Regions from separate parts of the Homo sapiens genome. Here all the other regions are linked to region 1. The links come from fine-mapping of genetic effects on gene expression. A gene starts in region 1. Each other region holds a variant in brackets. All regions are shown on one strand. Distances are from middle to middle.

What was found.
Region 2: its variant is fine-mapped to the expression of MYO9B in whole blood (INTERVAL, PIP 0.93).
Region 3: its variant is fine-mapped to the expression of MYO9B in skeletal muscle (GTEx, PIP 0.98). The same link has a PIP of 0.9 or more in tibial nerve.
Region 4: its variant is fine-mapped to the expression of MYO9B in whole blood (TOPMed, PIP 0.98).

Annotation. Positions count from the first base shown.
Region 1 is chr19:17,073,116-17,081,019 of GRCh38, forward strand. MYO9B (myosin IXB) reads left to right here and starts at 2,662. Exons shown (of 40, transcript NM_004145.4): 1 at 2,662-2,759. HAUS8 (HAUS augmin like complex subunit 8) reads right to left here and starts at 2,337. Exons shown (of 11, transcript NM_033417.2): 1 at 2,279-2,337; 2 at 159-220. The coding sequence starts at 2,307. RefSeq lists enhancers at 2,080-2,279, 6,644-7,181 and silencers at 2,460-2,809, 2,804-3,098, 6,532-6,631.
Region 2 is chr19:17,094,515-17,102,418 of GRCh38, forward strand. MYO9B (myosin IXB) reads left to right here. Exons shown (of 40, transcript NM_004145.4): 2 at 7,146-7,904. The coding sequence starts at 7,204. Among named protein-coding and RNA genes, the nearest start is that of SNORA118, 6.2 kb to the left of the region's middle. The variant G/A (reference allele first, on the strand shown) is at 4,590.
Region 3 is chr19:17,108,399-17,116,302 of GRCh38, forward strand. All of the region lies in intron 2 of MYO9B (myosin IXB), which reads left to right. Among named protein-coding and RNA genes, the nearest start is that of SNORA118, 20 kb to the left of the region's middle. RefSeq lists enhancers at 1,934-2,043, 2,007-2,508. The variant A/G (reference allele first, on the strand shown) is at 3,376.
Region 4 is chr19:17,178,555-17,186,458 of GRCh38, forward strand. It overlaps MYO9B (myosin IXB), which reads left to right. Exons shown (of 40, transcript NM_004145.4): 15 at 2,373-2,486; 16 at 5,275-5,314; 17 at 6,311-6,433; 18 at 7,367-7,447. Among named protein-coding and RNA genes, the nearest start is that of USE1, 33 kb to the right of the region's middle. RefSeq lists enhancers at 2,019-2,611, 2,612-3,203, 5,752-5,961 and a silencer at 2,706-3,000. The variant A/C (reference allele first, on the strand shown) is at 3,845.

The DNA.
Region 1 (7,904 bases):
CCACAGGGCTGGGATGGCCAGACCCAGAATCCCCACAGGTGTGACTACAAGGAAGTAAAGCCACAGGCCCCCTTCTCTGGCCTGTTTTTTTCTTCCTCCAAAAGCACGTAATGAAAGAAGAAAACCATGTTCCTTAAAGAGATCCTGACACTGCTTACCTTGAACTCTTTTATCCTTCTTCTTGGCACTGCTAGAATTTGTGGGGCCGGTTGCAGGCTTCCTGCAAGAGAAGAGAGAGAGGTCTTGTTCACCTCACTACCCAAGAAGCACAGGGAAGCCGGCGAGGTGCCTCTGCTAGTTGAAGCTCAGACAGCCCAGTCCAAGGGCTGCCAGAGGACAATTTCAGTGAGGGTGGGCCACCTCAACAGGAAAAGGGACACAAGGAGCAGCCAGCCCTGGTCACCTGGGCAAGAAGGCATAGGTGAACACCCAAACTGAGAAGAGAGGAGGGTAATGAGAGCTCTGTGGAAGAGATCACAGCAGATCTCAAATTATCCCTGGGTTCATTCATTCACCAGACATTGATGCACCTACTATATTCCAGTAGAGACACAGTGGTAACAAAACACAGAGCTCCTTCCCAGAAAGGGAAGAACAACATCTTGACAGGCAGGTACGAGGAGTGGTCCCAGCAGGTACCTCACTTTGGGAGGCTGAGGCTGGCGGATCACGAGGTCAGGAGATCGAGACCATCCTGGCTAACATGGTGAAACCCCATCTCTACTAAAAATACAAAAATGAGCTGGGGTGGTGGCATGCGCCTGTAGTCCCTCCTACTCAGGAGACTGACACAGGAGAACTGCTTGAACCCGGGAGGCACAGGTTGCAGTGAGCCAAGATCACGCCATTGCACTCCAGCCAGGGTGACAGTGAGACTCCGTCTCAATAAATAAATAAATAAAAATAAAAATAAAAATAAAAATAGAATGAAGCCTGATGTAATAGGAAAGAAGGGACCCTGAGATAGGAATCGCTGACTCATCAGCTGTGGGGGTGCAGGAGAGGGAGAATCTGGGATGACTAGGGGTTTCAGGGTTTCAGCCTGAGCTGGTGAGAAAAGAAGGGATCCAAGAACAGACACCAGCAACACAGGAGGGGCAAGTGGATGGGCAAGTGGAGGGGCAGGGCCAAGGCCAGGGCACTGTAACTCCTGCTCCCATCACCAAAGGCGGCTCCACTGGTCCCTGCGGCCACCTCCTCTGAAGCAGGCTCCCAGGACCCCAAAGTGAGACCCAGACAATGTTGGGGACACTTCCAGGCCACCGTGGGGAGAGGCAACTTAGCAAATGTTCGCCAGGTGCCAGCAGCTGCGCTCGCCCGTAGGCTCCTCCTAACCCGACAGCTTCCTAACTGTTCACACCTGCTTTTTCGTCGCTGCAAAACAAAGACGCACAGGTTTTACATAGGTCACCCCCGGGGCAGTCTCACAGCCAGAAAGAGACAAGAGCACAGACTCCCTCTGGGGACTGTGCTAGGGCTGTGGCCTCAAACCGAATGGGCTCCTGGGTGAACCTGCTGCGACCTGAGGGGGGTCCCTACAACCTGTGCGAGCCTCAGCTACTGCACCTGTACCTGGGAGGTGCTACTGTCAATCTATCGGTTACGGCAAGGGGCGGTGGAGTGATTCCTCTTGCTGGCCAATTTCACTTCAGTTTGCACCTGGCACAATCAACACTGGCAGAATTAACAAAACTAGACAAATATAGCCTCATGATCATTCATGCCTAGCTCTCGGTCAGTATTCAACTTCTTTCTTGTTCATGGTGTGTTACCCTAGGCAAGTCACTTCCCCTCCCTGGGTCTCCATCATCTCCTCAGTAAACTGGGAGCACAGAATAAAGCGCGTGGGAGGATTAAAGGGGACACTTTGGTCGCCCAACACTTGTTCACTGCATAACGATAATTCCAAGAGCGACATCACAGTAAAGACCCAGGCGCCGATCTAAGCGCGTTTCAGCCTCACGCGACGCCTACGAGGTTGAGCTGCGTCATCGGCCCCATTTCGTAGCGGAGGAAAGCGAGGCACTGGGCGGTCAGGCCGCTTGCCGGAGGTCGCCCAGCGTCCCAGCCGAGGACGCGGAACTCAGGGCCGGTCGGGTGTCAGCGCTCCGGAGCATGCGCAGAGGCAGCACGCCATCGGGGTCTTCAGGGGCCCGCGCAGTTCCTGGCGGGGTCGAACCCGAACTCACCCCGAGGGTCCTAACTCCCCACCTCCGCTGCCCATCCTCTCCAGCCCTATGGCGTCTACAAATCCAGACCTGCGGAAGCCCCAACTCACCCAGCGCCTCGCCCCGAGGAATCCGCCATTTTCCCGCCTTCCACCTCAAGGCCCGACCCGCCGGCTTTTCAAAGCCGGACCCGCCCCCTTGCTTGCGGGTCGGACCATTTGTGGAGACGCAGGAGGGGTGGCTGCGAGGCGTGAGGCAGCGCCGGCTAAGTGTGGAGAGCGCGGCCCCAGACGCGCGCTTCGCCTGTCCTCCCCTCGCACTTGGTCTCGCCCACCATCGGCGGTAGTGGGTAGGGGCGGTGGGTGGGACCTGATCTGTCGGACAGTAGGGGCGGGGCTTTTCGCGATGCCCCGCCCCTAGGAGCGCTGGCGTCACGCCCCCGTCCCCGCCTCTCCGGAACCCGGAAGCGGGAGCGCGCGGGGGAGCGGCGGGCGCGGCGGGGCGGAGCGGCTCGAGCAGCGGCGGGCTGGCAGGCGGTCGTCCGGCCGGGGACCCGGCCCGGGACCGGCGGCGCGCGGCGGCCGAGGCCAGGTGAGTACCAGGCAGCCTCGGGTTGGCGACTCGAGCTCGAAGCCTGCCTTTGGGGGCTGCGCAGAAGAGGGACGGAGCTGAGGGCTGATGGGGGACGCGACGGCAGGGGTCGAGGGGGCGGGAACGAGCCTGGGGGTCTTGGAGAGATTGCTGGGGATGAGGTGGAAGCGAGACGGTGAAGGAGAAAGTGGATGGGGATGGAGCTGGTGAGGGAGTTCGAGGGCGTGGGGGGGGTGAGTCTTGTGGCTTTGAGCAGCTTCTCTGAAGAGGACGTGGCTTAAGTGGTAATTGGGGGGTCGCAGGAAACGGCGTTGTGGGGAGGCACGGAGGCGGGAACGAGAGGCCCAGGCTGGGGGAGTGGGCAAGGCCAGGGGCGGGACAGCCGGGGTGCGGTTGAGGGGAAGGGGTGCGAGACCGATCTGGGGACGTCTGCCCGCGCGATTGAAGGAAGGGTGTCTGAGAAGAGGGCGGCGCCTGGCCCCCAGTGGGCGCTCAGTAAATGCGGGGGGTTCTGAACTAACTGATGCGGCAGCCGGCTATTGGGAAGCGGGGAAATGGGAGCTGGAAGGGAAGTAAACGGAGTAGAAGTCACGGTAAGAACTGAGGGTAGGCTTAGGGAGGGAGGGCCCGGAGAGGAGGGAAGAGAAGGAAGGGGTTAGAGTGGCCCCGTGCAGATAGATGTTGAGATGCAGCCCCTGGAGATTCCGTCCCCCCACCCTCCCCTCTTGATTCGTGTCCCTCCTGACTTCACACTTAACAGCTGGGTGACCTGGGACGAGTCCCAACACCCTCTGTGCCAGTGTCCTCGTCTTGGAAACTTCACCACCCTCCCCTTAAGACAGGACTAGCAGGATTCTGGGATTCCCTGGATCCAAGGAAGGGACCTCAGGGCCGGTTGTGGGGCCGGAACTGTGTTTCAGGAGGGAGTGTGCATGCACCCTCATGTACAGGACTGTCGCCACCTCCGCAGAGCTGCATCCTTGGACTTAAATGGGTAAAACGACATACAGGAAATCTGTCCCCCGGTTGCTCTGAGCTCAGCCCTGGAGAGGCACGACAGCCACGAGCCCTCCTTTCTTTCCTGGGCACCCTGGAGGCCAGGGGTCTTTAAGGGATGGCTTCTCTGCCTCTTTGTCTGAGGTGGGAGCCCGTGGGGACACTTTCCAGCCAGAGAGTCCCAACTCGGTTTGTTTTTTGATGTTGGAGTCTTCAGAATCTTAAGGTGTCCAGGAGCAGCCGGAGGTGACCTGGGCTACAGGAAAGTTATTCACATCTGACAGGCCTGGCTCTTGTGGCCCTGGCAGGGACTTTGTGCAGGGTGCTTTTGATTGGCATTCATTTCTCCCCTTTCCCAACTGTAGGGATCTTTATCTGGGATCTGCCAGAAGGGCTGGGGAACCCCAGCTTATGTTTAGTTTATAGCTCATTCAGGAGATGAACCCGGATAGCTGGAATATAAAGAGGGCCACAGAAAGATAAGCACCCCCTTCACTTCCAGAATATCCTGGCCTTTAGGAAAGGTGGCTTTGGCCTGGCTTGCCCCAGGACATGCAGTGACAGCCCACAGTCATGCCTCCTGCAAACATTGAACTGTAGGCTTGCACTGGCCTACAGAACAGGACCGGGATCTTCTGATCCCGCAGCCCTGCAATCGCCTCTTCCCTGCCGCTAGAGAATGGCCAAGCAGGGTCTTGTGGGGGGAGCACTGTGTTGGAGATCCTGGCTTTGGTCAAGTCTCTGTGCCTGTTTCTGACCTCTCACCTGCAAAATGAATGAATTGACCTCCATCAGCGTTTTTCAACCTTGAAACCCAACTCTTCTCATCACCGTCTTGTCTCCAGTCCATGTCCCCCAGCTCCCGGCCTTGAACTCCTCACAGCACCCCCACTCTCCATTCCTGGCTGCGATGATCCTACTTTTATTCCGTTTTCCATTCGACAGTTTGTATCCAAAAATGATTTTTTTTCAACCGCTTCTTCATCGTCCAAATAGAAAATTGCGGTGTTGAAGGTGCTTTTGCACATTGCACCTATTCCCAAAGCTTTGGAAACTGCAAATTTCTGGAAATCCCGAGGCAGTACCGTCCCTCGGGTCCAGTCTGGTGACTCAGTGGAGCAGGTAGAGACGTGGGAATCTCCCCTTTCTGTTTGGCTGTAGGATTCGTTATTCTCTCCCCACATGGACTTGTTAACTTGCTGCTTCCCATTCCTCATCTCTTCCAAATGGTGTGTCTTGGGTGGGCCTAGATTTCAGTTAGGCAAGGGTTGATTGTGCCAGACACTTGGTAGATTCCTGGGGACAGAGGTGAATCCTTATGACCCAGAGGACGGACACGCTAATGCCCGCCCCCGACAACTTTGCACTTCCTCTTCAGAAAGAATGGAGTTCAAGCTGGGCCGCGGTGGCTCAGGCCTGTAATCCCTTTGGGAGGCCAAGGTGGGTGGATCACAAGGTCAGGAGTTCAAGACCAGCCTGACCAATATGGAGAAACCCTGTCTCCACTAAAAATACAAAAATTAGCCCGGCGTGGTGATGTGCGCCTGTAGTCCCAGCTACTCTGGAGGCTGAGACAGGAGAATTGCTTGAACCCAGGAGGCGGAGTTTGCAGCCAGCCAAGATTGCGCCATTGCACTCCAGTCTGGGTGACAGAGCAAGATGCCCTCAAAAATAATAATAATTAAAAAAAAGAATGGAATTCAGATCAGGTCATCAGTACGGTGACAGAGGGGCCACAAGATATTATGGGGGGAGAATTAGGGACAACCAATGCAAGCTTTAGGACAAGGGGGATTCCAGCAAGTTTCCTCGGAAGTAGTGGCTGGCCCCAGGTCAAACCTGGAAAGATACCACGTGTTAAACCACTCCGGGTGGAAGGGATTGCACAAGCAGATACCTTTGAAGCCCGGCCTGTACAGGGCATCCCAGCTCTCTCATTCTGCCAACCGGCAGTGCGAGGGTCCTTGTTCTTATCTTCCTGATACAGAAACAGGCCCAGGCAGGTGATGACTTCAGAGATGGTTCCTTGAGCTTTCTAGAAACATGCAGGATCCTTAGTAACCTTTAACTGGGGAAACCCAAATCTCCAGGGCCGTTTCTCACCCGCATCACCATTGACAGTTGGGGCTGTGCACTGTAGAATGTGGAATAGTGTCCCTGGCTGTCACCCATGAGATGCCAGTAGTATTCCATCCCCTCCAAGGGGTAACAACTGAAAATGACTCCAGCCATGGCCACGTGTCCCCTGGGGGCAGAATCACCTCCCCCGCCAGGTGAAATGTGATGCTCATTAGTAAAACCTGGTTCCCCTCTAGGGCCCATCATTGCCTTGGTGGGTCCTTGGTGTTTGTGGAGCCCCTGAGGAACTGCCACTAAGAGTGGGAACAGGGGCAGAGACCAGGAACTGAATCCTGCCATCCAGTCAGTTCTTAATCAGGAGGGAGCGGGTCTTGATAAAAAGGAGGAACCGTTAGGAACGGACTGTGGGAGGGTAGGCAACGTGCCCGAGGGTGGACAGCGGGTGCCCTTGTCTTTTCTTTGTCTTGTGACTGACCTGGATTTCTGGAGGAACTGTCCTCGTCTTAGAATGATCTGTTGCTTTTCTTCTGAGATTAGAGGTATTAGATTCTCTCCCAAGAGCTACTTTGGAGGTTGCCCCGGATAAACGTCGCTTTTGTAAGCTGCATTATCTCTTCCATGGGCCCTTTCGCCCGCCCGTTCCCAAGCACATACTGCTGAATTTTTGTTCTTGGTCCATCTTGCTGTCCCCTTCCCTGCTTGGCCCCCTCCTTGACCGTGACTTTGCTGCTTTACCTTGATTGGAGGAGACGCTCTGGGGCCACGGGACTGACGGTCCCTTCTGGGTGCTGCCCCCACACCCCACCCACCAGCCCTTTGTGTGCCCGGCATCCCCAGCCCAGCTGTGCCAGGCTGCCCCTGCTCGGCCGGCCATTCAGACGGCCCCAGGCGGCCTCTCGGCAAAGCAAGACAAGCCCTTCTCTTCTGCCCTCGTGGTCCCTGGAGTGGCAGAACAAAGGGCTCTGTCTCCACACCAGCCCACCGCCGCAGCCCAGAGCCCCGTTCCCTTTCAATTTCTATCGTGGCTGGGAAAGAGCCTCAGAGATTAGGCATGTTTCAGAAATGCAGCTGACGAGTTTGGGTTCTACTCATTTCCTCAGCGAGACTTTCTGAGCCCGAGCCCGATGATAAATAAAGTAGTGATTCAAGGGTTCAGCCCATGGGTTCGTCGGAGTGATGAATAAGATATCCTTGTCTGACTCACTTGTTTAAAACCCATCTCTGCCCTGCTGCACAGGGCTGTATGTGCAAGAGAAGGAGCCCCGCTAGGGGTGTTTCATGACTGTTGTTGCTGGGTGCCTGAGTTTGCTAGGGCTGCTGTAACAGAACCGCACGCTGGGTGGCCAGAACGACAGAAGTATATTGGCTTGCAGTTCTAGAGGCCAGACGTTTAAGATCACATTCAAGATCAAGGTGTTGGCAGGGTTCGTGCCTTCGGAGGGCTGTGAGAATCTGTTCCACGCCTCTCTCTGTTGGCTCATACATAGCCGTCTTCCCCTGGGTCTTCACATCGTCCTCCCTCTGTGCCTGTCTCTGTGTCCAAATTTCCTCTTATGAGGACAGCAGTCATATGGAAGGGGGCCCACCCTAATGACATCATTTTAACTGAATCATCCCCATAAAGACCCTGTCTCTAGGCGAGGCTTGGTGGCACACGCCTGTAATCTCAGCCCTTTGGGAGGCTGAGGCAGGAGGATCACTTGAGGCCAGGAGTTTAAGACCAGCCTGGACAACATAGCAAGATCCCATCTCTACAAAAAAATACTAAAATTAGCTAGACATGATGGTGAATGCCTGTGGTCCCAGCACTTTAAGAAGCTGAGACAGACAGATCGCTTGAGCCTGGGAGTTTGAGGCTACAGTGAGCTATGATCATGGCACTGCATTCCAGCCTGGGTGACAGAACGACACCCCCATCTCTTAAAAAAAAAAAAAATCCCAAATATACTCATACTCTGAAGTTCTGAGGTTTAGGATTTCAATATGTGAATATTTCTTTGTGGAGGGGAGTGGTGGACACAGCTCAGCCCATAATACTGAGAAAAGGACAAATTCAAATTACATTTTTAT
Region 2 (7,904 bases), 21 kb after region 1:
CCACCGATCAGCTTTCTGTCTTCATAGGTCAATTTGCATTTTCTAGAATGTTATATACATGGAATCATACAGTATAGGCTCTTTTTAAAACTTAATTAAGGAAAAGTCACAAAAGGTAAAATTCACCATCTAAAGTGTGTAATTTGGCTGGGTGTGGTAGCTTAAACCTGTAATCCCAGCACTTTGGGAGGCTGATACAGGCAGAATGCTTGAGCCCAGGAGTTTGAGACCAGCCTGGGCAACATGATGAAACCCAGTCTCTACTAAAAATACAAAAATTAGGCAGGCGTGGTGGCATGTGCCTGTAGTCCCAGCTGCTCAGGAGGCTGAGGTGAGAGGTTTGCTTGAGCCAGGGGAGGTTGAGACTGCAGTGAGCCACAATTGCACCACTGGACTCCAGCCTGGGCAACAGAATGAGATCCAGTCTCAAAAATAAAAATTTGGCCAGGCGCAGTGGCTCATGCCTGTAATTCCAGCACTTTGGGAGGCTGAGGTGGGCAGATCACTTGAAGTCAGGAGTTCCAGACCAGCCTGGCCAACATGGCGAAACTCTGTCTCTACCAAAAATAGAAAAATTAGCTCGGTGTGGTGGCGGATGCCTGTAATCCCCTGAGATTGGAAGGGAGGCTGAGGCAGGAGAATCGCTTGAACCCAGGACGTGAAGGTTACAGTGAGCCAGGGTCGCAGCACTGCAATGGAGTGCAAGACTGTGTCTCAAAAAAGAAAAAAAAATTAAGTGTGCTAGTCAGTGCATTCACCGTGTTGTGCAACGACCAGCTCTATCTGATTCCAGAACATTTTCATCCCCTTAAAAGGAAACGCGGTCCCCATGAGCAGTCACTCCCTATTCCCCCTCCCGGAGTCCCTGGCAACCACCAATCTGCTTCCTGTCTCTATGGATTTGCCTGTTCTGGACATTTCATATCAATGGAATCATACACCATGTGGCTTTTTTGCGTCTGGCTTCTCTCAGCTTCATGTTTTTGGGGTTCATCCATGTTGTAGCACGGAGCAGTGGTTCCTTCCTTTTTATGGCTGAATCATACTCCGTTGTGTGGATGGACCACGTTTTGTGTATGCATTCATCTGCCGATGGACATGGGGTTGTTTCCACCTTTCGGCTATTGTGAATAGAGCTGCAGTGGACATTGGTGTACAAGGAATTGAGTCGCTGCTTTCTATTCTTTTGGGTCTATACCTGGGAGCAGAATTGCTACGTCTGTATGTAGTTATGTAATCTCTTTTGTCAGGCTTCTTCTTTTTTTTGAGACGGAGTCTCGCTCTTTCACCCAGGCTGGAGTGCAGTGGCGCGATCTAGGCTCAGTGCAAGCTCCGCCTCCTGGATTCACACCATTCTCCCGCCTCAGCCTCCTAAGTAGCTGGGACTACATGCGCCCCCCCACCACGCCTGGCGAATTTTTTTTTGGTTTTGTATTTTTAGTAGAGAAGGGGTTTCACCGTGTTAGCCGGAATGGTCTCGATCTCCTGACCTCATGATCTGCCCGCCTCGGCCTCCCAAAATGCTGGGATTACAGGCATAAGCCACCGCACTGGCCTTGTCAGGCTTCTTTCACTCAGCCCAACAATTCTGAATTGGTTTCCTATCACTGTGAGCATCAGGAACCAGCCATCCTGAACTCGTTGGTTCCTTCTCATTGTTGAACCATATTCCATGGTGTGGTCAGTGTGTTCATTCGGTGGGTGGACATTTGGGTTCTCAGTTTGGGACTCTCAGAAGTTACACGTCTCTGTCTCGACATCTGCTTCATTTCTCCTGAGTAACTCCTGAGAGGGGAATTGCAGGGTCACGTGCTAGGTATGTGTTTTAACATTGAAAGAAACTGCTGAAGTGTTTTCTAAAGCAGATGAGGGCCAGGCACAGTGGCTCATGCCTGTAATCCCAGGACTTTGGGAGGTCAAGGCAGGTGGAGTTCCAGACCAGCCTGGGCAACATGGCAAAACCCCCTCTCTGCAAAAAAAAAAATACAAAAATTAGCTGGGCATGGTGGTACAGTCAGAGGATCACTTGAGCCCAGGAGGTCGAGGCTGCAGTGAGCTGAGATCATGCCACTGCATTCCAGACTGAGTGACAGAGTGAGACCCTGTCTCAAAAAATAAAAAAGCAGATGAGCTGCCTCGTTCAGATAGTTTGTTGTTGTTGTTGTTGTTGTTGTTGTTGTTGTTGTTGTTGGTTTTTTTTTTTTTTTTGGAGACGGAGTCTCGCTCTGTCGCCCAGGCTGGAGTGCAGTGGCATGATCTCAGCTCACTGCAAGCTCCGCCTTCCGGGTTCACGCCATTCTCCTGCCTCAGCCTCCCGAGTAGCTGGGACTACAGGCGCCCGCCACTGCGCCCAGCTAATTTTTTGTATTTTTAGTAGAGATGGGGTTTCACCATGGTCTCGATCTGACCTCGTGATCCGCCCGCCTCTGCTTCCCAAAATGCTGGGATTACAGGCGTGAGCCACCACGCCCGGCCTGTTGTTGCTGTTTTTAAGAAATAGAGTCTCTGCCAGGTGTGGTGGCTCACGCTTGTAAATCCCAGCACTTTGGGAGGCCGAGGCGGGTGGATCACTTGAAGTCAGGAGTTCGAGACCAGCCTAGTCAACATGGCTGTCTCTACTAAAACAGAGAAACACTGTCTCTACTAAAAACACAAAATTAGCCGGGCATGGTGGTGGGCCCCTGTAATCCCAGCTACTCAGGAGGCTGAGGCAGTAGAGTTGGTTCAGCCCAACAGGCGGAGGTTGCAGTGAGCCAAGATCACAGCACTGTGCTCTAGCCTGGGTGATAAAGCGAGACTCCATTTCAAAAAAATTAAAAAAAAAAAAACAGCATCTCGCCCTGTTGCTCAAGCTGTATCTTAGATAGTAAAAATAAAAATAAAAATAAAAATAAACCAGGCTCTCAAAGCTTTATCTCATGACCTGGAGGAACATACAAATGCACTGACATATCAAGGAAAGAATTAGGTTTTACAGCTAAATGGATAAGACAATCCAAAATTTATTAAACTATACAGTATATATCTATTTCCCTGGGAGAAAACATGACAGTTACTTACTAACCTGGGGGAAAGTTTTAAGAGTTAAATCTTGTGTGTCCCCCAGCCTTCTTCCCTGTCGCCACTCCCTATCCCTGTGTGAACTGTTGCCTCGGCCTCATAAGTTATCGTTTCTTTCAGCCTCAGCCCTTCTAACACTTCTGCAGGAATTCTCAGAGCCTCTAGTGGCCCTGACCCCACTCAGTCACAGTGCTGAGTCATGCTTCTCTTTAGGGCAGAGGTCAGCAAACCTTTGCTTTGAAGGGCTGGATAGTAAATATTTTAGGCTTTCCAGGCTGTAATATTACAGTCTGTGCCTGAACTATTTCACTCTGCTCTTGTAGCAAAAGCAGCCACAGACAATAAGGAAAGGAGTGTGGGCAAGGCTGCCTTCCAGTAAAACTTTATTTATAAAAACAGGTGGTGGGCCTATTGTACCATCCTTTATTCTTCTACTCACCTCGTGAACGAACTCCTCTTCATCCTTCAGAACCCCCCCCCCCCACCTTTTTTTTCTTCACGATGGAGTCTCACTCTGTCGCCCAGGCCAGAATGCAGTGGCATGATTGCGGCTCGCTACAACCTTCACCTCCCAGATTCAAGCGATTCTCCTGCCTCAGCCTCCCAAGTAGCTGGGATTACAGGCACCCACCACCGTGCCCGGCTAATTTTTGTATTTTTAGTACAGACAGGGTTTCACCATGTTGGTCAGGCTGGTCTTGAACTCCTGACCTCAAGCAGTCCACCCGCCTTGGCCTCCCAAAGTGCTCGGATTACAAGCGTGAGCGACCGCGCCTGGTCTTAGAACCCCTCTTAGATATTCCTACTCCCCTAATGTCTTCTCTTGTCCTTTAGGATAATCACTCCTGCTGTGTGTCTTTTAACTGCTGCGCTGGATTCACGTCTACACTCACGTCTGTTTGCATACCAGTCTCTCCTGCCTGGCTTTGGGCCTCATCTTCACACCCTCAGCCATTCTTGGTTGACTCATGCCGCATTTATGGCTCTTGATCCAAGCCCCTAGGTGGGCTGGCACCAGCATTTCTTTTTCTTGCAACCTTCAGAAGCAAATGCACTTTTTAGGAATAAACTTGGCCGGGCACAGTCACTCATCCCTATAATCTCAGCACTCTAGGGGGCCTAGGCAGGTGGATCATTTGAGCCCAGGAGTTTGACAACAACCTGGGCAATATAGTGAGGCCCCCATCTCTACAGAAAATACAGAAACATTAGCCAGCATGCATCGTGGTGTGCACCTATAGTCCCAGCTACTTGTGAGGCAGAGGTGAGAGGATCACATGAGCCCAGGGAGATCAAGTCTGCAGTGAGCCGTGATCATGCCAATGCACCCCAGCCTGGGAAGTAGAGCAAGACCCTGACAAAAAAAAAAAAAAGAAGAAGAAACTGGGCGACCCTCTCTCTTAGGAAAAAAAAAAAAAAGGGCTAGGTGCAGTGGCTCACACCTGTAATCCCAGCACTTTGGGAAGCCGAAGTGGGTGGATCACAAGGTCAAGAGATTGAGACCATCCTGGCCAACATGGTGAAACCCC[G/A]TCTCTACTAAAAATACAAAAATTAGTTGGGCATGGTGGTGGGCGCCTGTAGTCCCAGCTACTCGGGAGGCTGAGGCAGGAGAATCACTTGAACCCGGGAGGCAGAGGTTGCAGTGAGCCGAGATCCGCCACTGGACTCCAGCATGGTGATAGAGTGAGACTCCATCTCAAGAAAAAAAAAAAAATGAAGAGGGTGAATTTTGGGGAGCTAAACAATCTATATACGTGGACATAACAGAGCAGAATAGTTATTGGGGACTGCAGAAGGTGATGGGGGGAGGAGGGTGAGGGTGAACAAATTTCCCGTTGGGTACGATGTTCACTATTCAGGCAATGTGTATCCCAAAAGCCCAGATTGGCCTGGCGCAGTGGCTCACTCCTGTAATCCTAGCACTTTGGGAGGCCAAGGCGGGAGGATCGTTTGAGCTTAGGAGTTCAAGGCCACCTAGCCAACATAATGAGAGCACTTTGGAAGCCCGAAGCGGGTGGATCACGAGGTCAGGAGATAGAGACCATCCTGGCTAACATGGTGAAACTCCATCTCTACTAAAAATACAAAAAAAAATTAGCCAGGCGCGGTGGCGGGCGCCTGTTGTCTCAGCTACTCGAGAGGCTGAGGCAGGAGAATGGCGTGAACCCGGGAGGCGGAGCTTGCAGTGAGCCAAGATAGCGCCACTGCAGTCCGGCCTGGGTGAAAAAGCGAGACTGTCTTAAAAAAAAAAAAAAAAAAAAGGCCGGGTGCGGTAGCTCATGTCTGTAATCCCAGCACTTTGGGAGGCCGAGGAGGATGGATCACCTGAGGTCAGGAGTTCGAGACCAGCCTGGCCAACATAGTGAAACCCTGTCTATGCTAAAAATACAAAAAAAATTAGCCGGGCGTGGTGGCGGGGTGCCTGTAATCCCAGCTACTTGGGAGGCTGAGACAGGAGAATCGCTTGAACCCAGGAGGTGGAGGTTGCAGTGAGCCGACATCATGCCACTGCACTAGAGCCTGGGCAACAAAGAGCGAAACTCCATCTCAAAAAAAAAAAAGCCCAGACTTCACCACTACACGATATATGTGTATAAGAAACCTGCACTTGTAGGCCAGGCGTGGTGGCTCACCCCTCTAATCCCAGCACTTAGGGAAGTCGAGGTTGGCACATCACCTGAGGTCAGGAGTTTGAGACCAGCCTGGCCAACATGGCAAAACCCCATCTCTACTTAAAAAAATACAAAAATTAGCCGGGTGTGGTGGCGCATGCCTATAGTCCCAGCTACTCAGGAGGCTGAGGCAGAAGAATTGCTTGAACCCAGGCAGCAGAGGTTGCAGTGAGCCGAGATCACACCACTGCACTCTAGCCTGGGCGACAGCACGAGACTCTTATCTCAAAAACAAAAAAAGAAAAAGAAAAGAAATTGGTATTGGCAGACTGCTACTTACCACCTTCCTGGTGTGCTTCTGGTGTCACTAGCTCTTCCATTCAAGCCCTCTCTCTGGTAGAGGATCCTTTCCAGGGAGTCCTATCGCATTGAGAATCTCCTGTGGTCTTGGACAGCTAGCTCCTCAGTCTTTCCTTGTTGCCCGTGACCTTGGCAGTCTTGGGACCACCAGCCATATTCCTGCAGGATGCCCCCAGCCTGGGCCTGCCTGATGTTCTTCTCCCCAGTAGTCTGGAGTTGTGGCTTCAGAAGCAACCACACTCTAGGCCATTCCCGAGTGCATTTTTCGTGGCTCTCCCGGACTTCATCTTCCTAGGTTGGGTTTCAAGGACCCTGGAGTTTTGGGAATCCCAAATTTCAGGACAGGTTCAGTCTTGCTCATCCCCACATGCCTCTCGCTGTTACTGCTGTGTGGCCAAGGCCTGTGGGGCCGAGTCGTCTTCTGCTTGGGGAGCTGCTGGGGAGGTTTATTCAGAGATGAGGTCAGGAAGGATGTGGGCTGGGAAGGGCATAGCAGAAAGAGGGTCATGGCTTGTTGGGCTTCAGGATTGAGAGGCTGCCTCTGGATGGGGTGGGATGGGGGCTGGGATGGAGCAAACTCAGGGGAAGGGTCAGGTCTTGGGGTTGTCTGATGATGTCACTTGTAAAAGCCACTGTATTTTTTTTTAAGTGACAGGGTCTCTCTCTCTCACCCAGGCTGGAGCACAGCTGGTATAATCATGGCTCACTGCAGCCTCGATCTCCTGGGTTCAAGTGATCCTCCCATCTCAGCCTCCTGAGGAGCTGGGACCACAGGCGAGCACCACTATGCCTTTATTTTTTGTAGAGACGGGGTCTCGCTATGTTGCCCAGGCTGGTCTCAAACTCCTGGCCTCAAGCGATCCTCCCACCTTGGCCTCCTAAAGTGTTGGGATTATAAGCATGAGCCACTGCAGGAGCCTGAGGTCACATTGAAGGACAGACAGACCCTCACGGGATGTCGTGACTGGTTGCCTCTGGCTTTTTGGGCGAGCCTAGTCGGGTGGGGAACTCCAGCATCGGGTCAGGTGCTATCTGCCCAGGAGTGGGACTCCACATGCCCCTTAAACTTCCTCCCACCATTCTGACCATGCCTGGCTCTGACCTCCCTTCTAGCTCCAGGACACGCGCGCCCCGAGCCTGGGAGGCATGCTGAAGCCAGGCGGCCGGCAGGATGAGTGTGAAAGAGGCAGGCAGCTCGGGCCGCCGGGAGCAGGCGGCCTACCACCTGCACATCTACCCCCAGCTGTCCACCACCGAGAGCCAGGCCTCGTGCCGCGTGACTGCCACCAAGGACAGCACCACCTCGGACGTCATCAAGGACGCCATTGCCAGCCTGCGGCTGGACGGCACCAAATGTTATGTGCTGGTGGAGGTCAAAGAGTCGGGAGGCGAGGAATGGGTGCTGGACGCCAACGACTCGCCTGTGCACCGGGTGCTGCTATGGCCCCGGCGGGCACAGGACGAGCACCCTCAGGAGGATGGCTACTACTTCCTGCTGCAGGAGCGCAACGCAGATGGAACCATCAAGTACGTGCATATGCAGCTGGTGGCGCAGGCCACAGCCACCCGGCGCCTAGTGGAGCGTGGCCTCCTGCCACGGCAGCAGGCGGACTTTGATGACCTGTGTAACCTCCCCGAGCTAACCGAGGGCAACCTCCTGAAGAACCTCAAGCACCGCTTCCTGCAACAAAAGATCTACACGTACGCGGGGAGCATCCTGGTGGCCATCAACCCCTTTAAGTTCCTGCCCATCTACAACCCCAAGTACGTGAAGATGTATGAGAACCAGCAGCTGGGCAAGCTGGAGCCACACGTCTTCGCGCTGGCCGACGTGGCCTACTACACCATGCTCAGGAAGCGCGTGAACCAGTG
Region 3 (7,904 bases), 35 kb after region 1:
CGGATCGTTCTCTGGGGAGGGAGTCATCCTGTGCATTGAAGGACATTGAGCAGCATCCCTGGCCTCCACCCACCAGATGCCAGGAGCACTCCCCACCCCGCAGGTGTGACACCCAGAAGTGTCCCCAGACATTTCATTGATTAGAGAGGTATTAACAAAATAGCTTCCCGTTGTCCCCTGGGGACAAATCACCCCCTGGGAATAGAACAGCTGTCTTTGAGTTCTTCCCATAAGACCCAATCACTGTTCATTGCAGCCACTGAGCTTTTAGAAATTATCTGTGAGTTCTTTCTGTTCTGTGCTAACTTAAGAGTCATTTTCTTTTTTTCTTTTTTTGAGATAGAGTCTTGCTCTATCGCCCAGGCTGGAGTGCAGTGGCACGATCTCGGCTCACTGGAACCTCTGCCTCCTGGGTTTGATTCTCCTGCCTCAGCCCTCCCGAGTAGCTGGGACTACAGGCGCCCACCACCGTGCCCGGCTAATGTTTGTATTTTTAGTAGAGACGGGTTTCACCATAGTGGCCAGGCTGGTCTCAAACTCCTGACCTCAAGTAATCTGCCCTCCTCAGCCTCCCAAAGTGCTGGGATTATAGGCGTGAGCCACCATGCCTGGCCCCAAGAATCTTTTTTTTAATTTTATTTATTTATTTATTTATTTATTTATTTATTTATTTATTTATTTATTTTGAAACAGAGTTTCTCTCTGTCTCCGGGCTGGAGTGCAGTGGCGCGATCTCGGCTCACTGCAAGTTCTGCCTCCCGGGTTCGTGCCATTCTCCTGCCTCAGCCTCCTGAGTAGCTGGGACTACAGGTGCTCACCACCACACCCAGCTAATTTTTTGTATTTTTAGTAGAGATGGGGTTTCACCGTGTTAGCCAGAATGGTCTCGATCTCCTGACCTCGTGGTCCGCCCACCTCAGCCTCCCAAAGTGCTGGGATTACAAGCATGAGCCACTGCGCCCGGCCATCATTTTCTAATAAGAGGAATAAGACCTCAGGCCCACTGGGTATCAGGGTTTGGGCTTCGTGATTTTCCTCCATCATCTCTAATCCCTCACGGCAGCTCTGCCCATTTTAAAGATGAGGAAACTGAGCCCCAGAGAGACACGTGGATGTGTGAGTTTCCTGAGGTGTCTATAACAAAGTATTACGGGCTGGGAGCCCTCAAACAGCAGGGGTTGATTCTCTCACAGTTCTGGAGGCCAGAAGTTGAAAATCAAGGTGTGGGCAGGGCTGGGTCCCTCTGGAGGCTCTGAGGGAGAATCTGTCCCAGGCCTCTCTCCCGGGTTCTGGTGGCTTCAGCCATCCTTGGAGCTCTGGGCTTGTGGCCGCATCACTCTGCCCTCTCCCTCCGTCGTCACCTGGTCTTCTCCCCTGTGTGTGTCCAATCTCCCTTGCCTTTCTCTCATGGGATCACCTCATCTCAAAATACTTACCTTCATGACATCTGCCAAGACCCCGTTTCCAGATAAAGCCACAGTCACAGGTTCTGGGGGTAAGGACTTAGACATGTCTTTTTTGGGAAGCCACAAGTCAACCCACTGCAGGTAGATTCCCCAGGCCACACCGCAGAGAGCCAAAGCCTAACCCGGGGTTTGAACCCGGCCTGAGCCCCAGCCCCCCGTTCAGGCTGCCTCTCTGCTCTCCCCTCTCTCGCCCGGGCTGCAGAAAGCCGGAGATCAGCACAACTCGCTGCATCGATTGGGGATTTTTTCTCAGCTCCCCGAAAGGAGAAGTTGAGCTGTTTTGAGGTTTGAGTGTCGCTGGATGCACCCCCTGACCCCCGCCCCCCGCGAGGGTTGCAGCCTCGCTGTGTAATGCTGACCAAAAAACAGGAAGGGAGCACTGTGGAAAGCCGGTTCCAATCAGCTGATCTGCCCGCCACTGCAGTTAACTGTTGCCATCACCTTTCACCAAGTCTAGGGGCTGCAGAAGCCATGAGTCTCCCCATCTTCCACATGGCCTCTAGCCTCCCAGTGCAGGCGCCCGTCGACAGCCCAGGGGCTGTGGATAGAGCACCTTACAGCATCGGCCATGGGGTCTCGCCGCAAAGCACACCCAGAACACGCTCCTCTCCCTTTGCCCACAGCCTCAGATCCACCAGGCACTCGCCTCGGTGCCCTTCTGAGAGCAGGCTGAGTCCAGGGGGCCAAAGGCTGGGGTTCCCTTCATCTGTCCTGAACTGTAGCAAGTGCAGCTGGCAGCTGGCAGCGTGCATGGGGTTTTCATTCTGAAAGCAGAAATAAAATAAGGATCCTTGCTTGTCAGGCTGTTGTCCCAAGGGTCCCTGGACTCCATGGAGCCCCTGTGGCCCGGCCCACAGTGGGACACGGTGACAGTGATGGGCTGCAGGGCGCAGAGGGACGCCCCCAGCTGGTGGAGCCAAGCTCACCCGAAGTTGTGCCGATGCCCAGGACATTCCAGTGAGGGACTGAGGAAGGGTCCTGAACGTGCCACTGCCCCAGACCCCCCTCTTGGGGCAAAGGAACCTAGGACTCGTACCCACCTGGACCGGGTCCTGAGCTCCTCCTTAGGGGCCCTACAAACCCAGTCTCATGTTTCCCCCAACTCCCCCAGCCCCTCTGCCATCAGCCAGGCCACTAGCTCTGTTCCCCCACCCACAGTCAGCACTGGGGTAGGTCACCTAGACCACAGTGCCATTATCCACTTCGACCTCTGCCCTCAAGGACACCTGCCTGGGCCACGTCCTTTCCCCCTGAGTCTGTCGGGCAAGACACAGTTGGATGCCAGCCTCCACCCAGCATTGGGGGCGTCATCTCATACGTCCTCACCACATCCTGATGTGGGCAGACTGACCACCCCCACCTGACATGTGAGGAAACTGAGGCACACGAGCTGCTCAGCAAGGGTGGCAGAGATAGAAGTTTCTGGAACCAGGTGTGTGTCAACTCTCATGCCTCTGAAGTTGAGGTTCCTGTTTAAGAGCTTATGGAGATATAATTTACCTATTTACTTATTTATAAATAGATACCTTATATTTATATCTACAGTTTATAAATATATAGATTAAATTGTATCTGCATTTTATAAATGTATAAATTATATCTGCAGTTTATAAATCTGTAAATTAAATTATATCTGCAGCCTCAAATTCCTGGCCTCAAGTGATCCTCCCACCTCAGCCTCTCAAGCAGCTGAGAATACAGGTGCACACCACCACCCCTGGCTAATTTTTTTATTTTTTGTAGAGACAGGGTTTTGTTATGTCACCAAGGCTGGTCTCCAACTCCTGGCCTCAGGCAAAAGTGTGCAATTCAGTGGCATTTAGTACACTCGCAGTGGTATGCAACCGTCGCCTCTATGCAGTTCCAGAACATTTCCATCCCCCTGAAAGGAGACCCCGTCCCCATCAGC[A/G]TTCACTCCCCACTTCCCTCTCCCAGGCCCTGGCAGCCACTAACCTGCTTCCTGTCTCTATGGATCTGCCTGTTCTGGACATTTCAGATCAATGGAATCTCTCACACTCTGTGGCCTTTTGTGTCTGGCTTCTCTCACTTGGTATCATGTTCTTGAGATTCATACACGTCGTAGCATGGATCAGTGCTTCCTTCCTTTTCATGGCTGCATCATATTCCACGGTATGGATGGAGGATGGACCATAATTTGTTTCTCTGCCCACCAGTTGTATCAGCATTTCATTCCTTTGTATGGCTGGTATGTGGTTGGGGTTTTCCTGGACCCCTGCCCCAGCCAGGCCAACCTCCCCCATCAGTGTCCCCCACAAGAACAATGTTGGGGAGTGGGGGGATTGACACTCACACAGAGGATCCCCTGGAGACTGTCATGAGCCCTGGGAAGGAGGAGAGCAGTCCTCTCCAGCAGGCTGCTTCGGGCGTGCTAATGGCTGGAGCCACCGAGGGACACCAGGTGGGACCAGGAGCCGGGGTGGGAGGAAGCAAGAAGGGGGCAGGCGTGCCCAGGTATAGCAGGGACGTCCAGGTACAGCAGGGACATCCATCTGCACGTTCTTCCCAGCCTGCTGAGAAGCCAGTGGCCAGAGGGAGGCTGGCTTCAGGGAGCAGGGCGGACGGGCCGGCTGGCGGGGGCCCTGGACTCGGGCAGGAGCGTTTGCACGTGGCTTCCCAAGTGCGACAGAGAGGGAGTCCTGGGAGCAACCCCAGCCGCGGGGATGTGCCAGATCTGAGGCTGATAGCTGAGGACGGACAGGTCCCAAGGGAGGAGGAGAGGGGGTCAGAGATGGCTGCAGGGGAACTGCCCGGAGGCCAGTCCTGGTGAATTTGGTTTGGGGTGCTTCGTTCAAGCAGCTGATGGGGCATCCAAGGGAGAATTGTGCACCAGCCACACAAAGAATCCCGCAGCCCCAGGGCTCATCAGGCCTCAGAGGCCATCCTGTCGCATGACCCAGTCAGAGAGGGGTCAGGGACAGACAGCAAGCTGGGGCACCTCCCAGCCAGGCACTCACCCAGCCCTTGGCTGTTGGCCATACAGGGAGGTGAGTTTGTCAGGAGAGGTAAGTGTTGAGAGGGGGCGTGTGGCTCCCCTCTCATTGGGGGGCATTTCAGGGATGAGATTCAGGGCATAGGCCACAGACCGGAGGAGGCTCAGGGTCAGGACGGGGCCAAGGCCTCAGAAGGCAGAAGTCACCCATGTCACGAGGAGCAAAGGGAAGCCAGCATTTGTTTGAGGAAGAGCAATACCTGCAGTCAGCACCCGTCTGTCTGTCAAAGGGTCCAGGAGCCCCCACTGGCTTGAGTTGTGTCTATGTTACATGAATGCAGAGGTATTTGAGGCTGAGGGTCTCTGAGACCACTTGTCACTTTGCTGGGCTGAGGGAGAAGGAAGGTGGGGCGTCAGTGGGCAGCAGGGTGGGCAGCAAGCTTGGGCTCAGGAGGGTCCGGGGCAGCAGCCTGGTGCACTTCAAAGGGAGATTGGAAGGCCAGCGTGTCCAGGGCCGGGTTGGGGAAGCAGGGCCAGGGTCATTGGGTGCCCGTCCTCCTCTCGGGTAGGCGCACTGCTGTGGTGGGGAAAGAGGAGGCAGAATTAGGGCTCTCAGGAGTTTCCCCCCTGCTCGCCCTGCGAGCGGTCAAGACTCAGGCTAGCCCAGGCCATCCGAAAGGCTAAACAGCGGGATGGTTATCCACACAAACATCTAGGTCACCCATCCACACAGGCAGGCGTGTGTGGAAGACAGGGTGGTGCAAGGACAGAAGGAGGAGGTACAATGTGGCCCTGACCGCAAGCTACTGAAGGTCCCTGAGGGGGGTGAGCTGGGCACCCCGGGCACCACAGGAAGCGAAGATAGAATCAATCTCTGGCTGCCTCTCCTGTGTGGCCTCCCCGGGATGTTTGCACAAAGGTAGGGGGAAGCAGTTTTTGGGGGCCCTGGGTCTGCAGAGCAGCCCAGAGGAGGAGATAGGAGCTGGGGCCCGAATGCAGGGCAGGCAGGAGACGGGGCAGGGCAAACCCCAGAGGCGACGAGAAAGCAGAATAAGCCATCATATAGGGTCAGTTTTAGACCTCACAGTCAGAAACCCTTGGGGACAGAGGCCAGGCTTCCTGGTCCAACCCAAGTTCCCAACCCCTGCCCTGTTGATATGTGGGCTGGATCATTCCGTTATGGCCAGGCCATCCTGTGCATCATGGGGGACTGAGCAGCATCCTGATCCCTGCCCACTAGTTGCCCATAGCACCCCCGCCCCTAGTCCCGACAACCAGAAACGTCTCCAGATGTTGACAGGTGTTCCCTGAGGAGCAGAACCACCCCCCAGTTGAGAACTGCTGTTTTAGGCCAACTGTATGACAAGATAGATTTCATTGTAACAGATGGTCTCTGCCTAAATATTTGTAGATTCTTTTTTTCTTGGTAACATTGTGCCATTGGAGTTACACATCAACCCGACCAAATTCGGCACGATTGTGGAGTGGCTGTTGGGCGTGGCGGGAAGCAGTTTCAGTCCGGCGTTCTCCCTCGTCCCTTGGGGGAGGTGACTGGTGTGCCTCCTCACCTCTCACTCATTGCCCACCCAGAGCCCAGGGGACGGTCACTGCTCACCCACGATCAGGCATGTCCTCGTGTCACCGATGATGAAGCGGCCCTAGGTGCGTGAGGATCTGGCTTTCCAAGAGCCTGCTCTTCCAGGTGCACTGAGTGACGTCTTACAATGTTGTTTGTAAGACTTGCTCCCCATGCCAAAAACCGCAGTCCCTGATTTTAGGACTTCCGCCTGCACTGAGAAGTAACATGCTCCCTGCTGGGGTTTTTTGCAAAGGAATGTAATCAAAGAGGTTTGCCGGTTTTCTGATCCAGGAGAGTGCTGGTTTGTGCGCCCTGGATTCTGTGGTCCTCCCTGTCCTCCTGGGGTGACTTCTTGAAACCTATGCCAGGTGCTGGCTGTGGCTCAGGTCTCGCTCCTTTAAGCATCTCCCCAGCAGGAAACAAGTCAAGAACCACTGCCGGGAAACAGGATCAGCGGCCAGAGATTCCCCACTTTGGCAGAACCATGACACGTTTCATTATCTCTTTTGGTTCCCCCAGTTGCTTTTCCCCTTTTTTTTTTTTTTTTTTAATAAAACACTTCGTCTTTTTAGTGTCTTTTCATTTTTCTTAACTTTAAAAAAAATTTTTTTTAGAGACAGGGTCTAGCCCTGTCGCCCAAGCTGAGGTGCAGTGGTCCAGTCATAGTTCACTGCAGCCTCAACCTCCTAGGCTCAAGTGAGCCTCCTGCCTCAGCCTCCAAATTAGCTGGGACTACAGCCACGTGCCACCACGCCAGCAAGGTTTCATTTCCTTTGGTATCTACCAGGGGTTGGCAAACTACAGCCCATGAGTTAAATCTGCCAGTGCCTATCTCTACAAATAAAGTTTTATTGGTGCATAACCATGCCCATGCATTTACATATCATCCCTGGCATCTTTGGCACCATGAGTGCAGAGCCGAGTAATTGCACCCGAGACACTGCATGGCCCACAAAGCTGAAAATATTTACTACCTGGCCCTTTATAGGAATTTTTTTTCCTTTGTCTACCCCAGTACATCCACCGCTTCGTAGAATGTTCCAGAACCCCATAAAGGTGACCATTTCACAGATGCCTTTTTTTTTTTTTTTTTGAAATGGAGTCTTGCTTGGTCGCCCAGGCTGGAGTTCAGTGGTGCGATCTCAGTTCACTGCAACCTCCGCCTCCCGGGTTCAAGCAATTCTCCTGCTTCAGCCTCCCGAGTAGTTGGTATTACAGGCGCCCACCACAACACCTGGCTAATTTTTGTATTTTTAGTAGAAATGGGGATTCACCATGTTGGCCTGGCTGGTCTCAAACTCCTGACCTCAAGTGATCCACCCACCTCGTCCCCCACAAAGTGCTGGGATTACAGGTGTGAGCCACTGCACCCGGCCCCCAGGTGTCTTCTTATCTTCTGCTCAGCTCCCCCTTCCCAAATGTAATGAAAGCAGCTTTCCATCCTAGATCCAGACAGCCCAGATCACCAGCTGGAATCTCTGCATTTGTATCCGTGCCATAGACATACATACGTATTCATAAACATCCATTTCCCCACACAGAGTCATAAAGCAGTTTGGGGAGTCAGGAAAGGAGGACACAGATAGAGATGTCCCACAGGGTTCGGCGGAGCTAACTCACTCTGTCTCTCTGCCCCACAGCTGGGAGTGGTAGTACAGCCCATGCATTTGGGACCTGGCTAGGCTGGCAGGAGCTGTGCGGGGTTCCCTCCTTGCCTTGAACCCCCTCACAGGGCTGAACATCAGCAGGCCCCATCTCTTGAAGGGTTTCCAGCTGCCTCCTGGGCTCTGAGATCGCGTGCATCCTGCCTGCAGGGCGCACAGTCTGCCAGGGACTCAGTGGGAAGAGGATCATGGAACCTGTGGGCCCAGAGTCACCGAGCAGGACCCTGTCATCCTCCTGGTCTCTC
Region 4 (7,904 bases), 110 kb after region 1:
GACATTCCTCACTAATATTTAGTTTGAAAGCATCCAGTTTTCATCTCTAAGGCATTCTAATTCACACACGGTATCAGTGCCAAAGTTTGCACCTCCGCGTGCGTGCTCAAGCCTAAGCCCACAGCCATCAAACAAAATGAAGCGAGTAAGGTTGAGTGCTTTGAGGGTAATTATCCCCTTAAACTAGGGTTTCTCTGGCCGGGCGCAGTGGCTCACCCCTGTAATCCCAGCACTTGGGGGAGGCATACGTGGGCAGGTCACTTGAGGATGGGAATTCAAGACCAGCCTGGCCAACATGGTGAAACCCTGTGTCTACTAAAAATACAAAAATTAGCCAGGCGTGGTGTGCACCTGTAATCCTAGCTACTGGGGAGGCTGAGGCAGGAGAATCACTTGAACCTGGGAGGCGGGGTTTGCAGTGAGCCGAGATCACACCACTGCACTCCAGCCTGGGCAACAGAGCAAGACTCTGTAAAAAAAAAAAAAAAAAAAAACTAGGGTTTCTCAACCTCAGCACTGTGCCAGATCATTCTCTGGGGTGGGCACCCGTCCTGTAGACTGTAGGGTGTTGAGCAGCATCCCTGGCCTCCACCCACCAGATGCCAGGAGAGCACCCCCACCCCCAAGTCATGGCAACCACAAATGTCTGCAGACATTGGCAGATGTCCCCTGATGGGGATGGTACCGCCCCGGTTGAGAACTGCTGTGTTCAAACTGTGGCTCTTGTATTCAAATTAATTCCTCCAAAGGCCTTAATGAAGCCAACAAGGAGATTGACATCTGGCCACAAAATCATGGAGAGAGACTAATTTGCTCCTCCCACAGAGACCCTCCCTAGGGTCTTTTTTCTGAGTCGCCCCAACTGATTTTTTTTTTTTTTTTTTTTTTTTTAGACAGAGTCTCACTCTGTTGCCCAGGCTGGAGTGCAGTGGTGCGATCTCGGCTCACTACAACCTCTGCCTCCCAGGTTCAAGCGATTGTCGTGCCTCAGCCTCCGGAGTGACTGGGACTACAGGCATGCGCCACCATGCCCAGCTAATTTTTGTGTGTTTAGTAGAGACGGGGTTTCACCATGTTGGCCAGGCTGGTCTTGAACTCCCTACCTCAGGTGATCTGCCCTGCTCAGCCTCCGAAAGTGCTGGGATTACAGGCATGAGCCACCGCGCCCAGCCTGTCATGGAATTTAAAAAATAAATAGGCTGAGCAGGGTGATGCATGTCTGTAATCCCAGCTACTCAGGAGGCTGAGGCAGGAGAATCGCTTGAACCTGGAAAGTGGAGGTTGCAGTGAGCTGAGATCGCACCACTGCACTCCAGCCTGGGCAACAGAGCAAGACACTGTTTCCAAAAAAAAATAAAATAAAAATAAAAATAAATTTAAAACTAAATAAATATCCCCAGCCAGGCGCGGTGGCTCACACCTGTAATCCCAGCACTTTGGAAGGCTGAGGTGGGCCGATCACAAGGTCAGGAGTTCAAGACCTCCCTGACCAACATGATGAAACCCCATCTCTACTAAAAATACAAAAATTAGCCGGGCATGGTGGTGCACGCCTGTAATCCTAGCTATTTAGGAGGCTGAGGCAGGAGAATTGCTTGAACCCAGGAGGCAGAGGTTGCAGTGAGCTGAGATTGCGCCATTGTACTCCAGCCTGGGCGACAGAGTGAGACTCCGTCTCAATAAATAAATAAATAAATAAATATCCCCAAAGGCTCTTAAATATGAGAACTTTTTCAGTGATCCAAATGAAAAGGATCGAATAAAGTGGAATGACCAGATGGAAATAATTTTTTTTTTTTTTTTTTTTTTTTTGAGACAGAGTCTCGCTCTGTCTCCCAGGCTGGAGTGCAATGGATGGCACTATCTCAGCTCACTGCAACCTCTGCCTCCCGGGTTCAAGCAATTCTGCCTCAGCCTCCCACGTAGCTGGGATTACAGGTGCCCTCCACCATGCCCAGCTAACTTTTTGTATTTTTAGCAGAGATGAGTTTCGCCATGTTGGCCAGGCTGGTCTCGAACTCCTGACCTCAGGTGATCCACCCGCCTCGGCCTCTCAAAGTGCTGGGATTACAGGTGTGAGCCACCGCACCCAGCTGGAAATGATGTATTGAAAAGGATCAATGATCTGTGTTGCCAAGTCCAATTTGCCTCAAAGCCCTGCCCCGCTCCAGGGCTTGGGGAGGCTGGCCCAGTCCCCATTTCTGGCAAAAGAGAGAGGGGCAGCATTGAGCACAGTGTCTTTCCCCCAGCTGCATGTTTTGGCTTCAGTGGCCTGGGGATGGTCCCAATGGCGCTGGGAACCCCGAGGTGGCAGGCCTGCTTCTAACTCCATCTTCTTTCTGTCACTGCGCCCCCTCCACCCCTCCCCTCAGCGATTTGCATAACCAAATGATCAAGAGCATCAAAGGATTGCCCTGGCAGGGCGAGGACCCCCGTAGCCTTCTCCAGTCCCTCAGTCGGCTCCAGAAACCCCGCGCCTTCATCCTGTGAGTCCCCCACCAAGGCCCTGCTTACAAGTGCGACAACCGCCTCCCACTACTCCTGCGACCCCGGCGGGGCCTGCAGTCTTCCTAATTTGCATCGGCCACTAAAACCACAGTGCTGTCTCATGGCCCACCCCCAGCCATCACTAAATGCCAATCAATAACACCCCTGGCCTCTGTCTGCACTGTGGCCCAGGCACAGCCGGCTTCCCAGCACACGGGGCAGCTTCCCAGGAGCACTCCTTCTTCGAGGCATCTAATTTTCCACCCGCAAACGTGCCATCCTCCGTCTCCTCCCCGTGCCTATCTGGCTTGCAGAGCAAAGCTTGCTCCCGCCTTTGCCACTGTGAGTTTGCAGAGAAGCCATCTGCAGCAGGGCATGCGATTTCCCAGAGAGGGTGGCCCTGATCTCTGCAGGTGGCCACATAAGCCAGTCAGGAGAGCCCAGAAGGTGCATAAACCGGTTTGGGATCCCGACTGTTAGCACACTGTGGGATTGAGTAGTCTCTGCTTTCAGCCTGCAAATGGGGTAATGACTCTCATGCTTCCATTATGCTGACCCAGCACCAGGCAGGCAGCAGCCTCAGCTGACAAGACATCCACCTGCGGTCACCACATCTCGCCTTTTAGTGGCCATTGGGGTGTGGGCTGGCTGAGAGCAAAGCTTGCACCTGCATGGGAGCCAATGAGAGCCAGTTTCTTTCTTTCTTTCTTTCTTTCGTTCGTTCTTTATTTCGTTCTTTCGTTCTTTTTTTGAGACGGAGTTTCACTCTTGTTGCCCAGGCTGGAGTGCAATGGTATGATCTCGGCTCACTGCAACCTCTGCCTCCCGGGTTCAAGCGATTCTCCCACCTCAGCCTCCTGAGTAGCTGGGATTGCTAACACCTGCCACTACTTCCAGCTAATTTTTTGTATTTTTAGTAGAGATGGGGTTTCACCATGTTGGCCAGGCTAGTCTTGAACTCTTGACCTCAGGTGATCCGTCTGTCTTGGCCTCCCAAAGTGCTGGGATTACAGGCATGATTCACCGCCCTTTTTTTTTTTTTTCTTTTTTAAGAGATGGGGGTTTCATTCTGTTGCCCAGGCTACAGTGCAGCAGTGAAACGATCACCGCTCACGGCAGGTTCGACCTTCTGGGCTCAAGCAATCCTCCTGCCTCAACCTCCAGAGTAGCTGGAACTACAGGTGCGCATTACCACACCTGTCTAATTTTATTGTTTGTAGAGGTGGAATCTTGCTATGTTATAGCCCAGGCTGTCAGGCTGGTCTCAAACTCCTGGGCTCAAGCGATCTTCCTGCCTCAGCCTCTCAAAGCACTGGGATTACAGGCATGAGCCACCGCACCCAGTGGGAGCCTGTTT[A/C]AAACTTCTGTTCCTTTTTTTTTTGAGGCAGAGTCTCACTCTGTCGCCAGGCTGGAGTGCAGTGGCTCAATCTTGGCTCACTGCAACCTCCACCTCCCGGGTTCAAGTGATTCTCCTGCCTCAGCCTCCCAAGTAGCTGGGATTACAGGTGTGCACCACCACACCCGACTAATTTTTTTCTGTTTTTAGTAGAGATGGGGTTTCACCATGTTGGCCAGGCTGGTCTTGAACTCCTGACCTCAAATGATCCGCCCACCTCGGCCTCAAACTTTTGTCCTTGTTGTGCCTTATTTTACCCCACAGGGATTCAGGTGAAACTGAATGCAACCACGGATGGCTAGGCATCTCACAGATCTACAAGTTACCATCTCCTTAGCCGGTCTTCAAAAGGCACCAGGCCTTTTGAATAAATAAATATATTTACTTATTTATTTATTTTCCCCCTTGGTCTGCAAGATTCCATAAGGTGTCTGAGAACACAGGAGCTATCCCCTTCCTTACCTCGGCCAAAAGAGCAGCTTTGGGTTTTGGGGGGGGTTTTGAGACAGAGTCTCTCTCTGTCACCCAGGTTGGAGTGCAGTGGCACGATCTCGGCTCACTGCAACCTCCGCCTCCTGGGTTGAAGCAGTTCTCCTGCCTCAGTCTCTTGAGTAGCTGGGATTACAGGCACCCGCCACCACACCTGGCTAATTTTTGTATTTTTAGTAGAGACAGGGTTTCACCATGTTGGCCAGGCTGGCCTTGAACTCCTGACCTCAGGTGATCCGCTCACCTCAGCCTCCCAAAGTGCTGGGATTACAGGCGTGAGCCACTGCGCCTGGCCAGCTTTGGTTTTCTTCTTTCCCACCAGCATGATCCTGAAAGGAGCTCCCACCCAGGCCCCATTTTGGTTATTTTGCAGGGCAAGTCCCTGCCCTGCCAGCAGAGGGTTCCAGAAGGGCCTCTGTGGGCCTGCTTGGCATCTACCAGCACATGGCAAAGACAGCCTGGTCACCTGGTCACCACCAGGACTGCTCAGGCTCCCTCCGCCCCACTCGGCATCCTGCTGTGATCTGGGGGATATGTCAGTTCCTCCATAGCAAGCCCCGCTGGATGCACGTCCCACCCTGTAGATTCCTAGCCAGCCCCTCCTACTTCTCAGACATCCGAATGGCCCCCAGACTAAACACTTTACTCAGCTTTGGGGCAGCCACCAGCAGAGTCCGGGTGCCGCCAACCCAGGGAAACTGGTGTCCACAGACAGTGGCTGAGGCACGCCACGGTGTGCAGCGTGGAGAGGTGGCGGTGGCCTTGTTGCACTTGCGCCTTCTCACTCTCTCCCCTCTCTCTGTGTCTCTCAGTCTAACCCGCCAGGCGTGGCTTGCTGAACTAACCCAAATCCCGACACTGTGTTCCTTTTGTTCACAAAACCATTTTTAATATTTTGACAGGAAAAGTAAAGGTATCAAACAAAAGCAGATCATTCCAAAGGTAAAAAAAAAAACACACCCCGCGCGACACGTTCCAAGATATCTTGCTTCTCTGCCCGTCTTGAGAGCTTTCACTTCTGCAACTTCATTTCCTCCTCCTTCCCACTATCTCCCCCTCCCTCCAAGAAAAAAAAAATGTTCTCGTGTTGAGATGATTTAGAGCTGTCTCTTTATGGGTTTCCCAGAAGCAGGGTCTGAGATGGGGTATTTGCACACACAGCGGCTTATGGAAGAGGGCTTACGTGAGAAGGCAGAGAGAAGGGGTGAGGGAGGAAGCTAGGGGCGTAAGCATAGCTGAAGTCTGGCCTCAGCCTGGTCCCATGGGGAGCTCTAGTGGGTTCATAGCACCACAGAGCTCATCCTGCCCCAACGTAATGGGACCCTTCCGTTTAACACCCCCATCTTCAGTCCCTGGCTACTGGGCTGCTTCCAGACAGGACAGAGAACCTCCCAAGCGCTCTGTCTCGTTTCCACATACAAGTGCAGCAATTTAAGAAATTTGCAAGAAGAGTAAGAATAGCCTTGCAGTCTAGTTAGCAGATGGGAGAGGGCTAATTCCTCTTGTCAGCTGATAGAACTGGCTGACACATGATGGTGGCCTGTCCGATGAGCTCATGCGGATGGCACAGAAAGGACCTGGCCCTTCTTGACTCAAGTAATGTAAACTGTAGGAGCTATGCAGAGGAGAGGGACGGCCAGGTTCAGTAGCACTGGCTTCCTCTCTAACCCAGAGGAAGAGGAAATGGGGCAGCCACTCAGGCTGTGAAAGAGGCTGTCATCAGCCCTCCCGGAACCAGCGCTGTGTGCAAGGTGCAAACCCACCTCATTCCACTGGGCCCACATCAATAGTGTGGTCCTGAGACCAAACCTAAGAGCTGCTGCCCGGGCACTCGCTGCGGGGACGCTGTTCTGCCCTGGCTTCGGGGACACCTGTGATGCCTCCCCGTGCCCGTGTGGGCTGTGGGAGGGCAGGCCGGACCCCATGTGTCTGTCCTAGAACCTACTGGACTCCAAGTCCCTGAAACTCATCATCAGCATGACTCTGCACGACCGCACCACCAAGTCCCTACTGCACCTGCACAAGAAGAAAAAGCCACCAAGCATCAGCGCCCAGTTCCAGGTAGGTGGAGCAGGAGAGGCAGAAGGTGGCGGTCAGCTCAGCCTCAGGCTTGTGTAGCTTCACCCGACACCGAGCACAGCCCGTCTCTAGTAAAAATACAAAAATTGGCCGGGCGCGGTGGCTCAAGCCTGTAATCCCAGCACTTTGGGAGGCCGAGGCGGGCGGATCACGAGGTCAGGAGATTGAGACCATCCTTGCTAACACGGTGAAACCCCACCTCTACTAAAAATACAAAAATTAGCCGGGCGTAGTGGCGGGTGCCTGTAGTCCCAGCTACTCGGGAGGCTGAGGCAAGAGAATGGCATGAACCCGGGAGGCGGAGCTTGCAGTGAGCCGAGATGGCGCCACTGCACTCCAGCCTGGGCGACAGAGCAAGACTCCATCTCAAAAAAAAAAAAAAAAGATACAAAAATTAGCTGGGCATGGTGGGCACCTGTAATCTCAGCTCCTTGGGAGGCTGAGGCAGGAGAATTGCTTGAACCTGGGAGGCGGAGGCTGTAGTGAGCCAAGATCACGCCATTGCACTCCAGCTTGGGCAACAAGAGCAAGACTGCGTCTCAAAAAAAAAAAAACAAAACAAAACAAAAAAAACACTACATCCGTGGTCCCTTCTGAGGTTGACACATGTTTCAAATCTCCAGAAAGCGTTTGTCTGGTCCTCCCCAGCCCCAGCCTTCCACCTGAGGCAAAAACAAGCACTGGTGGCCCTGGGACCATGGGGACCACATAACTCCCTCGAGGGTTTCCAGGGATAGCGCAGGCTTGGGTCAGAACGTCCAGCTGGAACCTCCTGTGTCCCACCACCAGGGACCCACATCTGTGCAGACCCCATCCACCCCACACTGATGCTAGAGTGTCCCAGGTCTGCTCCCACAGAACAGCGGCTGTCAGGGTCCCTGATTCAACCCAAATGCTTTCTCTTTCCCTTAACAGACATCCCTTAACAAGCTCTTGGAGGCACTGGGGAAGGCGGAGCCCTTCTTTATCCGCTGCATCCGTTCCAATGCTGAAAAGGTGAGTTTCTCTAAGGTGTTTGGGAGGAGAAGGCCCATGCCGGACTCTTAGGGGTGTCGGTGTCCCTGCATCCAGCCCCAGCCTCCACGCAGTATGGGGGACGGTGCAGCAGTCCATCCAGAGGCAGCCGGGGATGGAGAATTAGCAGTGAGGATGGTCCAAGTGGCCATTTAAGAGCAGGGACATCATCTGGAACATGGAGAGGCCCAGAGAAGGTTTGATTAGGGAGCGACAGGTCAGGGGTGCTTTTCAGATACATCCCAAAGAGTAGCCGGTGCAAGGAGTCTACCAGAAGGCAGAGGCTGAGATTACATAGCAGAGTCTCAGAGGCACACACAGCCCGCTGCTCACATTACAAGTTTCTAGAGAGACCCTTGGAGCCCCCGTGGGACCACCAGCAGGGGCTCCAGGCTCAGCACTGGCACAGGCTTCCTTTACCCCAGAGGTCCACTCCATC